Linked DNA regions of Homo sapiens: all the other regions are linked to region 3. Evidence: fine-mapped expression QTL. A gene starts in region 3. Each other region holds a variant in brackets. All regions are shown on one strand. Distances are from middle to middle.

The links. PIP is the estimated chance that this variant, and not a neighbour inherited with it, causes the effect.
Region 1: its variant is the best candidate, but not a certain one, in a credible set for the expression of PIGB in whole blood (INTERVAL, PIP 0.89).
Region 2: its variant is the best candidate, but not a certain one, in a credible set for the expression of PIGB in cerebellar hemisphere (GTEx, PIP 0.71).

The regions. Positions count from the first base shown.
Region 1 is chr15:55,275,945-55,280,188 of GRCh38, forward strand. All of the region lies in intron 1 of RAB27A (RAB27A, member RAS oncogene family), which reads right to left. Among named protein-coding and RNA genes, the nearest start is that of RAB27A, 12 kb to the right of the region's middle. RefSeq lists an enhancer at 3,747-4,041. The variant AT/A (reference allele first, on the strand shown) is at 2,538.
Region 2 is chr15:55,184,338-55,188,581 of GRCh38, forward strand. RSL24D1 (ribosomal L24 domain containing 1) reads right to left here. Exons shown (of 6, transcript NM_016304.3): 4 at 1,025-1,088. Among named protein-coding and RNA genes, the nearest start is that of RSL24D1, 10 kb to the right of the region's middle. The variant C/A (reference allele first, on the strand shown) is at 2,144.
Region 3 is chr15:55,317,182-55,321,391 of GRCh38, forward strand. PIGB (phosphatidylinositol glycan anchor biosynthesis class B) reads left to right here and starts at 2,041. Exons shown (of 12, transcript NM_004855.5): 1 at 2,041-2,232; 2 at 3,094-3,229; 3 at 4,092-4,209. The coding sequence starts at 2,070. PIGBOS1 (PIGB opposite strand 1) reads right to left here and starts at 1,942. Exons shown (of 2, transcript NM_001308421.2): 1 at 1,683-1,942; 2 at 3-686. The coding sequence starts at 611. The coding sequence ends at 447. It also overlaps a transcript of RAB27A not described here. RefSeq lists enhancers at 1,801-1,870, 1,921-2,010, 2,071-2,150, 2,221-2,300.

The sequences.
Region 1 (4,244 bases), 41 kb before region 3:
AGATAAGTGTTGGCAAGGATGTGGAGAAAAGGGAACCTTGTACGCTGTTGGTGGGAATACAAATTGGTACAGCCACTATGGAAAACATTATGGAGCTTCTTTAAAAAAATGTTTTCAAAAATTTTTTAAATAGAATACCATAGGATTTGGCAATCCTACTTCTGGGTATAATACATCTGAAAGAATTGAAATCAGGATTTCTAAGTGATATCTGTACTCCCATGTTCACTGCAGCATTATTCACAATAGCCAAGACTTAGAAACAACCTCAATGTCCACTGACAATGAATGAATGAAGAAAATGTGGTCTATACATACAATGAAAAAGTATTCAGCCTTAAAAAAGAAATAAATCCTGCCACCTGTGACAATACAGATAGGTGGAAGATATTATACTAAGTTAAATAAGCCAGACACATAAAGAAAAATACTATGTGATCTCCCATATATTTAATATATAGAATCTAAAATGTCAAACTCTCCAAGCATGGTGGCCACTCCTGTAGCCCCAGCTACTCAAGAGGCTGAGGCGCGACAATTGCTTGAGCCTATGACTTCAAGGCTGCAGTGAGCTATGATCACGTCACTGCACTCCAGCCCGGGCAGCGGAGTAAGATCTTGTTTCTAAAAGAAAAAATTTTAATTTAAAAAAAAGTAACTCAAACTCCCAGAAGCAGAGAGCAGAATGATGGTTGCCAGGGACTGGGAGGAGGGGGAAATGGGAAGGTCATAGTTAAAGAGAACAAGTTTCAGTTATGCAAAATAAATAAGTTCTGAAAAGCTATTATACAGTATAGTGTCTATAGCTAATAATACTGTATTATATACTGAAAATCTGCTAAGAAGATAGATCCAGTGTTAATTGTTCTTACCACACACACACAAAAATGCAATAATAATAAAACAGGCAGGATAAAACCTTGGGAGGTGATGGATACATTTATGGCCTTGATGGTGGCGATGGTTTCATGGGTGAATAATTATCCCCAAATTCATCAAGATGTATACATTAAATATGTACAGACTTTTTATCTGTCAATAATACCTCCCATAAAGTAGTTTTTTTAAAAATAAATTGTTAAGTAGGGGAAGGAAAGAATGAACAAACAAACGTAGGAACAAATGAACAAACTCAGGTAAGAAAGAGGAGATGAAAATGGTATACTTGTGGCAGGGGTGGATGGAGCAATGAGCTAAATTCTCTACTTCTGTAATAAAGTATCAATAGATAATGACTAAAACTGAAAAACTGACCACAGAAATATAAATGTGTCATTTAGAGACTAGATGTATAAACTACTGCAAGACTTCAGTGGTTAACTCTGGAGAGCAGGAAATGGGCTGGGGGAGAGGCGTCTACTGGTTTTTTGTAACAGCCCTTGTAAAACAACGTCCACGTATAACTTTGGTAAATTTGGCAGGGCACGATGGCTCATACTTGTAATCCCAGAACTTTGGGAGGCAGAGGCGGGCAGGTCACTTGAGGCCAGGAGTTCGAGACCAGCCTGTTTGTCTCCATAATAAATGGCTCCTGACTGCTGTATTTATTTCGTGTCTTTTGTTAATTTATATTTCCTTCTCCCTCCCCTCACCTTTGCTGTCAGGCAGCTATCCCTCACCACAGTAATCAGTGTGCCTTCCTGGGACAACCCCTACCCCTTCCGATGCACTGTTTTTAATTGACAAGGCACCTGGAAACCAAATAACCAAGCTTATTAGAACTGTGTGTAAAATGAAGAAAAATGGGCACCAAAAAATGTTCTGAAAGTTGCTCTGTGATGCAGGTTGGCAATTTTCAATACATTAACCATTTGTCCAACTCAGAACCGTTTGGCCTTACTATCAACTATGGGTCAGTAGGCTGGGTGACACTCAGTGGGACCAACCATCCCAGTTTAGTGGGGACTGAGTTATAGCACTGAAAGTCATGCATCCCGGGAAACCATATCCCAGCATTGGGCAAGTTACTTCATCTTCTTCAACCTGTTTCATCATCTGTAAAATGAAAGATAATATCTGCTTTGAAAGATTGTTGAGGATTAAATGAGAAAATGTTTGTATAACTCTTGACACATATGGTAGCTGTAGCTATTATACTCACTTGCATATTGTTATTATCAACCCTAGTATCAGGTAGAAAAAGAAAGTATTCTTAGAAACATAACCTGTAATTTGCTTTATATATAGTGGACTTCAGGAAGCTGCAATGTTTGCTTTTGTGAATTTCCTTCCCATTTTGTAACACACATTTTGTTTCAGGGACTAAAACATATTAAAGAAATTTAATAGTTCAACATTTCTGATTTCTCTACTGGACAAAAGCCTGGCAGGTTTCCACTATATTTTCATAGAAATGACTCTTTTACACTATGGGAGCCCTGGGGTATTTATGTCAGTAGCCGCTTCTAAACTTGTGAACAGAAATCAGCCTGCCACCTCACAAAGAAGAGGCATCATATCTGAAATTTGTTTTTAATTTCCATTTCACTTTTTTCCTTCATAATAGCACCAGATTATTCAGTCTTCTAATCATTATT[AT/A]TTTTTTTTTTTTTTTTTGAGAGGGAGTCTCACTCTGCCACCCAGGCTGGAGTGCAGTGGCACGATCTCAGCTCACTGCAAGCTCCACCTCCTGGGTTCACGCCATTCGCCTGCCTCAGCCTCCCAAGTAGCTGGGACTATAGGCGCCCGCCACCACGTCTGGCTAATTTTTTGTATTTTTAGTAGAGACAGGGTTTCACCATGTTAGCCAGGATGGTCTCGATCTCCTGACCTCGTGATCTGCCCGCCTCAGCCTCCCAAAGTGCTGGGATTACAGGCGTGAGCCACCGCACCTGGCCCAGTCTTCTAATTATTTAGTGAATTCAGTACGTTGACATGGGGCTGAAAAATCTGCATTTCTAAGTTCTAAGTTCTAAGCCAAGTCATTCACTAATTATGTCAATTCTATCCCTGAAAAATAAGGGCTTGTATCACCAAACGGATGAAATACCATTTCTGAACTCAAAAGCTGAAGCAACTCCCTACTCCACATTTATTAATTACAGCCTGAAGGAAATTGCTCACATCTATGCACCCCACAGACAAAAGGGCACAGTTGCTAAAAGAACAGTTCCAAACTTTGGGATAGATAATGGAAAGAATCACAAGTTACTCAAAGCCAAAATATGGCCTAGGAACCCTCTAAGAAGCAGTAGAGACAGCAGAAAGAGCCAGGCAGATAAGACTCTTAATAAAGGCCCCCATGGCCTGTCCTCCCATACTCTTCTATTTCTTCTCCACCCAGTGTCCGAGGCCTGTGACCACAAAACACAGGACAACACAGAACCTCAGAGAAGCCTTGAGGGGCAACTGGTCAACCAATTAGGGCAGGTGAAAATGGATCCAGGACTGGCAGCAGAATCACCTAGGATATGTGATGAAAATCCAAAATTCTGGGTCCCATTCAGGCCTCTGAATTAGGATCTCTGCAAGGGAGGCCTAGGGAATCTGCATTTATATCAAGCTTCCCAGGGGCTTTCTGGTTATACACAATCAAGTTTGTAAGCCACTGTTCTAGGGAGACAACAGATGGCAAAAATGTACAACTACAGTTAGGCAAATAGCCTGTACATCAAGATCATATTTAACTTCTACTAGCCTCAGATACCAAATCTGTAAAATAGGGATAATAATACTGACCTAGCAAGGTGGTTGTGAGAATCAAATGAAATAAGTAATAGCCTCACACACAGTGTCTCACATACAGCAGGTGCTCAATAAAAGTCCATTCCCTCGCTTGTGTATGGCATTCTAATGAAGACTTACAACAATAGTTTTTGAATAAATGTCACCTGTTTTGAATAAATATCACCAAGGAAAGCAGATGGCCAGGAAAGTTAAGGCCTCAATGTTAATGACTCATCAACTACAAAGGCCGAGGTCAGCAGCCTTAACCAGCGATTGAGTCATGAAATGTACTTGTAGACAGTGGTTCTCAAGCTTCGGGGTGCATCAGAGTCACCTAGATGGTTTTAAAACACAGACTCTAGGCCCCACCAGAGTTTCAGATTCAGTAGGTCTGGAGTGGGGCTGAAAATCTGCATTTCTATGTTCCCAGGTGGTGCTGATGTTACTGGTCCTAATCTGACACTTTGCAATAAAAAAAGAAAAACTATGCTGTGTATATTTCCTGTTTGACACTAGACTGGTTAGTTTCATGTAAATAGAGAAAAAAACTAAGAAACCAACAATTTCCGAGGCTGTGC
Region 2 (4,244 bases), 130 kb before region 3:
CAAAATAAATAATGACAATAAAGAATTATAACCCAATGTATACCATAAGAATCCATGAATACACACAGATGTAATATGAATAAAGGAATAAATCTTGAAATTGATGGAAAAGGGAAAGCTCTTTCTTACATGAGAAAATCAACTAAAAAATGTAGAAGAAATGATGGAATTAGAAAAACCACCATTTGGCAACAATCACAACAATAGTAGTAACTGATTCAGGCAAGACTCTAATGAAAACCAAAACCAGTAGGTACAAGTTTGAGGAGTAATAGGCTTTTTACTGAATCTCTATGTATCTCCCCCAAAATACGTACTGATTATAAGGAAAACAAAATAGTAATCTTCCAGTGGAGAAACCTGACAGACATCACCTTAATCAAGTGATCAAAGTTAACATCACCAGCAAGGTGACATCATGTGCTTCCCGATATGATGCATGAGAAGGATACGCCATCATTTCTGAGACATCCCTGCCAAAGGTGCCTAGCCAAAATCTAATGAGGAAGGTATCAGACAAACCCAAATTGAAGAACGTTCTATACAATAACTTGACCTATAGTCTTCAAAACTATCAATGTCACGTAAAAGAAAGATGAGAAACTGTCCAGATTAAAGGAGCCTGAAGAAATATGAAGGACTTTGTGTTGCTATGGACGTAATCAGAATAACTGGTGAGGTCTAAATAAGGTTTATAGATTATATAATAGTATTACATCAATGTTAATTTCCTGACTGATAGATAACCATACTGTGTTTATTTAAGAGAATGTTCTTATTTTTAGGTTACACACACTTAAGTATACTTAGAAGGAAAAAGCATTATGTCTTCAATACATTGAGACAAGGATAAAGTAAATGTAAAATGCTAGCAGAATATACAAGAGTTCTTCATATTATTCCTTGAAGTTTTTGGTAAGTCTGAAGTTATGTCAAAATAAAAAATTTTTTTAAAAAATACTAATGCCTCTAAATATCTACTAGTAATTATTTTCCAAAAGTTACTCCATACAAATATTCATACCTGTTCATTATAAATTTAGCTTGGCGCTTCTGTTTGATTTCTTCAACTCTCTTCATCGCATCAACTACAAAAAAATTCATGAGTTAGCAAATGTATGCACATTCAAGCGGTATGATCAACAACTGCATTAACAAACACTTCTTTATTATTCTGATTTAGAAATGAATTTACATGAAAAAAATCATTACAAAAACAATCCCTACTCAAAAAGCTGAAGAAGGTGTATACTCCTGGCCATCATGACTCTCAACATTCTCTTTCACAAGTATCATTTCTCTAATTTTTATCTGACAAAAGTCTCTACTGCTGTTAAATTTTCCTTCCACTTTAAACCAATCCAATGCTTTTCAAATTTTACTATAAAGAGAACTTGGACTACTGACAACTAATCCCATTCTTAACTTGTAATTTCCATGAATAAAGACAGCATCTTTCTGGTTATGAACACTTAAAAGTGCCTGGGATATGGTCAGCACATGATATTAGCAGAATGAACCAAACAATCAATACTACTAAGTTCTCAACCACAAAAATCCAACTGTTTTAGAAAATGCCTACAGGAGTGTTGGCTAAAAGGGGGCTGAGTCCAACTATGCTCTAAAATTTCTATCAGTACTATCCAATGAAAGACAAACCACATATGAAATTTTAAATTTTCTAGTAGCCGTATTTTTTAAAGTAAAAACGAACAGGAGGAAATTTAATGATACATTTTATTTAACCCAAATTTCCAAAATACTGTCACTCAACATGCAATCTATATAAAATTACTAGTGAAACATTTTATCCTTGTTTTCATATTAAGTCTTCAAAATCCAGCATTCATTTCACATTTACAGCACAACGCAATTTAGACTGGCTCAGTAGCTCAGACACTTCTGATCTAGTCTAGCTCTTTAAAGTGTAGTCTGTAGATCTAAAGAATAATAAGATATTTATATAGTCTTAAAGTATCTCTCAAAAGTATACTTATTAATTAAAAAGAGTAAAACAGTAACTCTTCAGTGGAAAAACCTGGCAGACACCACCTTAACCTAATGATCAAAGTTAACACTGCTAGTAATGGAACTAATGGACAGCTTGTGTCTCCTGACAAAACACACTGAAAAAACTCAGCAT[C/A]AAATCTCTGGTGCTCTTGCCAAATGTGCATTATCCAAACCTAATCTGAAGGAAACACCAAACAATCCAGTTAAGAAATTTTATACCAAACGCCTGGCCCATATTGTTCTAAACTGTCAATATCATGAAATATAAGGACAAACTCAGGAAATGTTCCAGATTACAAGAGATTAAAGAGACATGACATGTACTATTCTTACAAATTTTGCTATAAAGGATATTACTGGGACAATTGGAGAAATATGAATAGGACTAAGATTAGGTAATAATAGTCTATCAATGTTAATTTCTTGATTTTAATAATTGCAGTGTGGTTATGTGAGAATGCTCTTATTTCTGGAAATACATATTAAACTAGGGACCAAGAAGTATTTTGCATGCTTAAACAGTTCAGAAAAATATACACTAAAGGGAGAAAGGGAGAAAGAAGAGAGACAAAGAGAAAAAATTAATTTAACAAAATGTTAACATTCAGGGAGTCTGGATGAAGGATATCAGAGAACTCTACTCGTGCAACTTTTCTGTAATCTGAAATTAGGTCAAAATAAAAACTTTTAAAATGTAGCCTGGGACCAGTAACAGTGGCATCATTTGGGAGCTTGTTAGAAATGAAGGATTTCAGGCCCCACACAAACCTACTATATCTGAATCTACATTTTAACAAAAACCACCAGGACAATCTTTGAGACCTCTAGTATTAAAGCAATGTTTGTATAAATAACTCTAAGAAAATGTCAACTATAAATCTGCATATGCTGTAGCTCAGAATTAATAATATGCTGGATATATAACTTTTTTTCTTTGTCTTTCAGCAAAAATAAGTACAAGTTCTAGTACTCAAAAGCATTTCCACACTTTAAACTTATTTAGAAGGGAAATAAACACAAGTGGCAGGAAAATCCCTTCCAAAGAATAATATGCTGTATTTCCAAATATTCCAGAATACTGAAATATTTTGAACCTAAGAAGCATCTAACTGTACAATTCACAACTGCAAAGATATGGAACCAACCTAAGTGCCCATCGACCAACAAGTGGGTAAAGAAAATGTGGTATTTATACATGATGGAATAGTTCTCACCCAAAAAAAGGAATGAAATAATGTCTTTTACAGCAACTTGGATGGAACTGGAGGCCACTATTCTAAATGAAGTAACCCAGGAATAGAAAAGCTAACACTGTATGTTCTCACTTGTAAGCAGGGGCTAAGCTATGGGCACGCAAAGGCATACAGAGTGGTATAATGGACTATGGGACTCAGAAGGGGGAGTGGGGTGGGGTAAGGGGTAAAAACTATAGATTGGGTACAATGTACACTACTCAGGTGATGGATGCACTAAAATCTCAGATTCTGACAATCTACAATTAATCCATGTAACCAAAAAAACCACTTGTACCCCAAAAGCTATTAAGATTAAAAAAAAGTTCAACAAAAATATGTAAAAAGTTAAAATAAAAAATAAAAAAAAATCTGACAGATATTAACAATTCACCTGCAACACAGACAGCCATGAGGGACAAAGTGCAAACTATTTTTCCCGGTATTTTTGAAATTCTAACATACTACTGTTTCTACAGACATCAGTACCTTAACAAAGGTTGTTTAATCCATATCCTCACACAATTTGATAATGTAAGCAATGAATATACAACTCTTGTCAATAGATTAGTTTATAGACCAAATGATACTGAAATACGAGGGGTGTGGAGAATCAATGAATCTCTTAGAAGAATAATATATTGTTCTGGAACACTACTGAAAACAACTTTTCTTAATTGTATAAAATATCATGAAACAATCTTAAATTCCAAAGACTCTCATACTATTTACCTAGCACTCATACTGTACACTTAGCAGATCTTCTCAGAAAAATCTATTTTTAGGATCCCAGTAAAAAGGAAAGCAGAATCAGTGCAGGAAAAAAGAAATCAATAGAGCACTGCTTCTTACAGAATTTACAGATGTATAAATGTGGGGGGCAAGAGAATGAGACTCTGTAATAAAACCTAACAGAAACAATAAAATAGGAGTACTCAGTAAGTGCACCTAGAGGGCAGAGACCGTGTGTGACGTGTTCATCTTTGTATGCCACAGGCAGTG
Region 3 (4,210 bases):
TGTTAGGTTAAAAAATCATTATCCATGATTTATTTTTAAGTACATCTATGTTTTTGCTAGATTAGAGTTAACATAATTAAATGGAACTTTAAGCAATTATTACAGTTCATCTCCATGAGGTATTTGTGGGTTTTTTTGCTTTTTGTTTTTTTAGATGGAGTCTCGCTCTGTCACCCAGGCTGGAGTGCAGCAGCGTGATCTTGACTCACTGCCACCTCTGCCTCCCAGGTTCAAGTGATGCTCCTGCCTCAGCCTCCCAAGTAGCTGGGATTACAGGCGCATGCCACCAAGCCTGGCTGATTTTTGTATTTTCAGTAGAGACAGGGTTTCACCATGTTGGTCAGGCTGGTCTTGAACTCCTGACCACCTGATCCACCCGCCTCGGCCTCCCAAAGTGCTGGGATTACAGGCGTGAGCCACTGCGCCAGGCCTAACTCCATGTAGTATTAACTTTTCTTCTCTTCTGATTCTTGTACCAACTGCATCTTTTCTTTTAATTCCTTCTGATCTTTGGCATACTGTTCAAATACTGGTTGAAAAATATATACTCCTCCAGCAATTCCAAGGACAGTGGCAAAAAGCAGTTGTGCAAAAGTCAATCTCCTAAACATTGCTGCAACAAATACAGCTCAAGGAAAAGCTGGTTTTGGAAAGTCACACTCCACACCCAGGAAATCTCTTCAAATCTGCATACAAAAATGGAAAGCAAAGCCATCACTTAGTACAATGTCCTTTTAAAAGATGTTATGTCACTACTTTGCACTGGAGTGAACAATATTTTTATAATATGTTACTAATTAAAACAAGAATATAAATACATAAGGAGTACAGGAAGTGAATTAGGGAAGGGTATAAGACAAAACTAAAACCTTTTCTATTACAGAATGTTCTCAATGGTTTTAAATGCATACTTTTTCTTTTTTTTTTTTTTTTTGAGACGGAGTCTCGCTCTGTCGCCCAGGCTGGAGTGCAATGGCGCAATCTCGGCTCACTGCAAGCTCCGCCTCCTCGGTTAACGCCATTCTCCTACCTCAGCCTCCCGAGAAGCTGGGACTACAGGCGCGTGTCACCACACCCGGCTAATTTTTTGTATTTTTTGTAGAGACGGGGTTTCACCGTGTTAGCCAGGATGGTCTCGATCCTCTGACCTCCTGATCCGCCCGTCTTGGCCTCCCAAAGTACTGGGAATACAGGCGTGAGCCACCGCGCCCGGCCTGGTTTTACTTTTAACAAGAGGAGTGGGCCGCACGCGGTGGCTCACGCCTGTAATCCCAACACTTTGGGAGGCCGAGGCGGGCGGATCACGAGGTCAGGAGTTCCAGACCAGCCAGGCCAATATGGTGAAACCCCGTCTCTACAAAAAAACACAAAAATTGGCCAGGCGTGGTGGCGCGCCTGTAGTCCCAGCTACTTGGGAGCTGAGGCAGGAAAATCACTGGAACCCGGGAGGCAGAAGTTGCAGTGAGCCCAGATTGCGCCACTGCACTCCAGCCTGGACTACAAGAGCGAAACTCCGTCTCAAAAAAAAAAACAAAAACAAAAACAAAAAAAAAACCTAACAACAGCAACAACAACAAAAAAAATAGGAACCATTCGGCCTGTTTCCACATCTGTACAACAAGCTAAATCATCCCTACCCTGCCTACCTCGTTGAACAGGCATTTTTTGTGAGAGCAACGAACCTGAAATGTTAACACCAACACTGACGTCTACAATTACCGTTACCGTTTTTAATAACCACTCAGGTACCTCCGACTGTTCTGCGCCTGCTCCACGTCACTAAACTCGCTACCGCCTGCTCCCCTCCAGAGACCGGGGGCCTTCCAGCAGTTTTCGGACCCCCGAGCACAGAGACCGCCAAGCCAAAGGCGAGTAGCAATCCCTCGGTTCGGAAACGGCGAAAGGAAACCGCAAGGAGGCCACCACGTCGGGTGGGAGCTACGAAGTTGCCCGTTCCCGGTTACTTCCGGGCTTGCGAGCGACGACTGCTCTCAAAGGCCAAACTTAATGGATGGACGAGCAGCGCGCTACTGCAGCTTTCTTCCGCCTTAGGAAGGTGGCGGCCAGGGATGAGGAGGCCCCTAAGCAAGTGCGGAATGGAGCCGGGGGGCGGAGATGCCAGCCTCACTTTGCATGGTCTCCAGAACCGCTCCCACGGCAAGATAAAGCTGCGAAAGAGAAAGTCTACCTTGTACTTCAACACCCAGGAGAAGAGCGCCAGGCGCCGCGGGGGTGAGTGAGGGGACACTGTCTGGAGAGCTCCTACCCCCATCTAAAAGGAACCCCCTCCATTTCATTACCAGCCAGTTGCCCGTTGAGCTCTGTGTTGCCAGATCTTGAGTTTTGAAATGCTGGGAAATGCTGGAAACACAGATTTTAATATAAATTCTGATTTTTAAATGTTGGCAACTAAATTCAATTTTTTAAAAAATACTCTGTATTTGGCCGACAGGCTGTCCATTTGTGGTCAAGAGCAGGACTTTGGAGACATCACACAGACCCGGGTTTGAATCCTGATAAGTAATTTACAACTTTATTTGGACAAGGCAGTTTAATTTCTGGGCCTCAATTTGCTCGTCTGTAAAATGGGGCTAATAATACCTATCCCATAATATTGTTTGGAGGATTAAGTGAGATGCATGTGAAGAAATTAACACAGTGCCTGGCATATATAATAGTAATCATCAATATATATGTACAGAGGACCATTTTATATTGCACATATACAAAGGGCTGCTTCCCAAATTAGTAATTTGTTAGCTGGTTTCTTTCATTAGATACACACATAGTATGACCTAATTAATTAGCCTAAGGCCTTAGTTAACCCACTCTTTTTTTTTTGTATTTATTTTAATATTATCTTTACACAATAAGTTGCAAGAAAAGTTGGTTAAACTAAAAGAGTGGCAGTCACCCAGTGATGACGCTGTGGTGCTTGTATAACCAACCAAGTTGGCTTTAAGAATGGTGTGGAGGGACCAGAGGTCACTACTGTGCCTTACAAGGAGCCAACCAGAGCAGCAGATTTTAAGTTTTGCAAGTGGAACTGCCTGACTTTTGTGCCACTATTACCTGTTTTGTTCTGTTTTTCAGATCTTCTTGGAGAAAATATTTATCTGCTCTTGTTTACCATAGCTTTACGAATATTAAACTGCTTTTTAGTGCAGACAAGTTTTGTTCCAGATGAATACTGGCAGTCTCTTGAAGTTTCACATCACATGGTTTTCAAATATCCTTTGTGGTTTCTTTTCCAGACTATGAGTGTGTATTCATCTTGGAAATTGTGCTCAGTTTCTTTTAGAGTAGTCCCCCTTGCTCCCTCGTCTTCAGTAGATAGTTTCCAAAATCCCTAGTGGATGCTTGAAACTGTAGACAGTACCAAACTCTATATATATTGTTTTTATATATGTAAAAAATACACACACGCTTATGATAAAGTTTATACAAATTAGGTACAGTAAGAGATTAACAGTATTAAAATATAACAAGTATAACACAATACTATAATAAAAGTTATGTGAACTTTTATGTGGTCTCTCTCAAAATATCTTCATATTTTCAGACAGTGGTTGACTCTGGGCAACTGAAACATGGAAAGAGAAACCACAGATAAGGGGGGACTACTATACATATTTTCAGTTTTCCGTATTTTCCCCAAATAATTTTAACTCATCAAAGTATACCATTATTTTATACAAATATTTCTCCTGTATCTTTCTTTTATGTTAATATACTTGACACAGCCGTTAGCATACATTCCCACAGTACTTAGCACTTGGAGGATACAGAGAAAGTAAAAAACACATTACTGCCTTGAAGAAGTTAAGAGTTTAGTTGGCCAATTGAATTTTTAATGCAAATATCCAGTATAAAATGCTGTTTTAAGACTGCCACAAAATAAAATATTGTTTTATAAATGGAAATGAAAATAGATTTTGCCAGGTGAAGTGGTGTGCACCTGTAGAGGCAGGACCACTTGAGCCCAAGTTTGAGACCAGCCTGGGCAAGAGAGTGAGACCCCATCTTAAAAAAAAAAAAAACACGGAAATAGGTTTCAATATTATTGGACATTTACTCCTTAATGTTACTAATTATGGTTATTTGACTTGGGAATGGACAGAGAGACTGAGGAGTTACACTTATCCCTTAATCTTTGCAAGCATTTACAAGATTCTTCATCTTTTAGGGAAAGATAGTGTTCAGTTGCTGG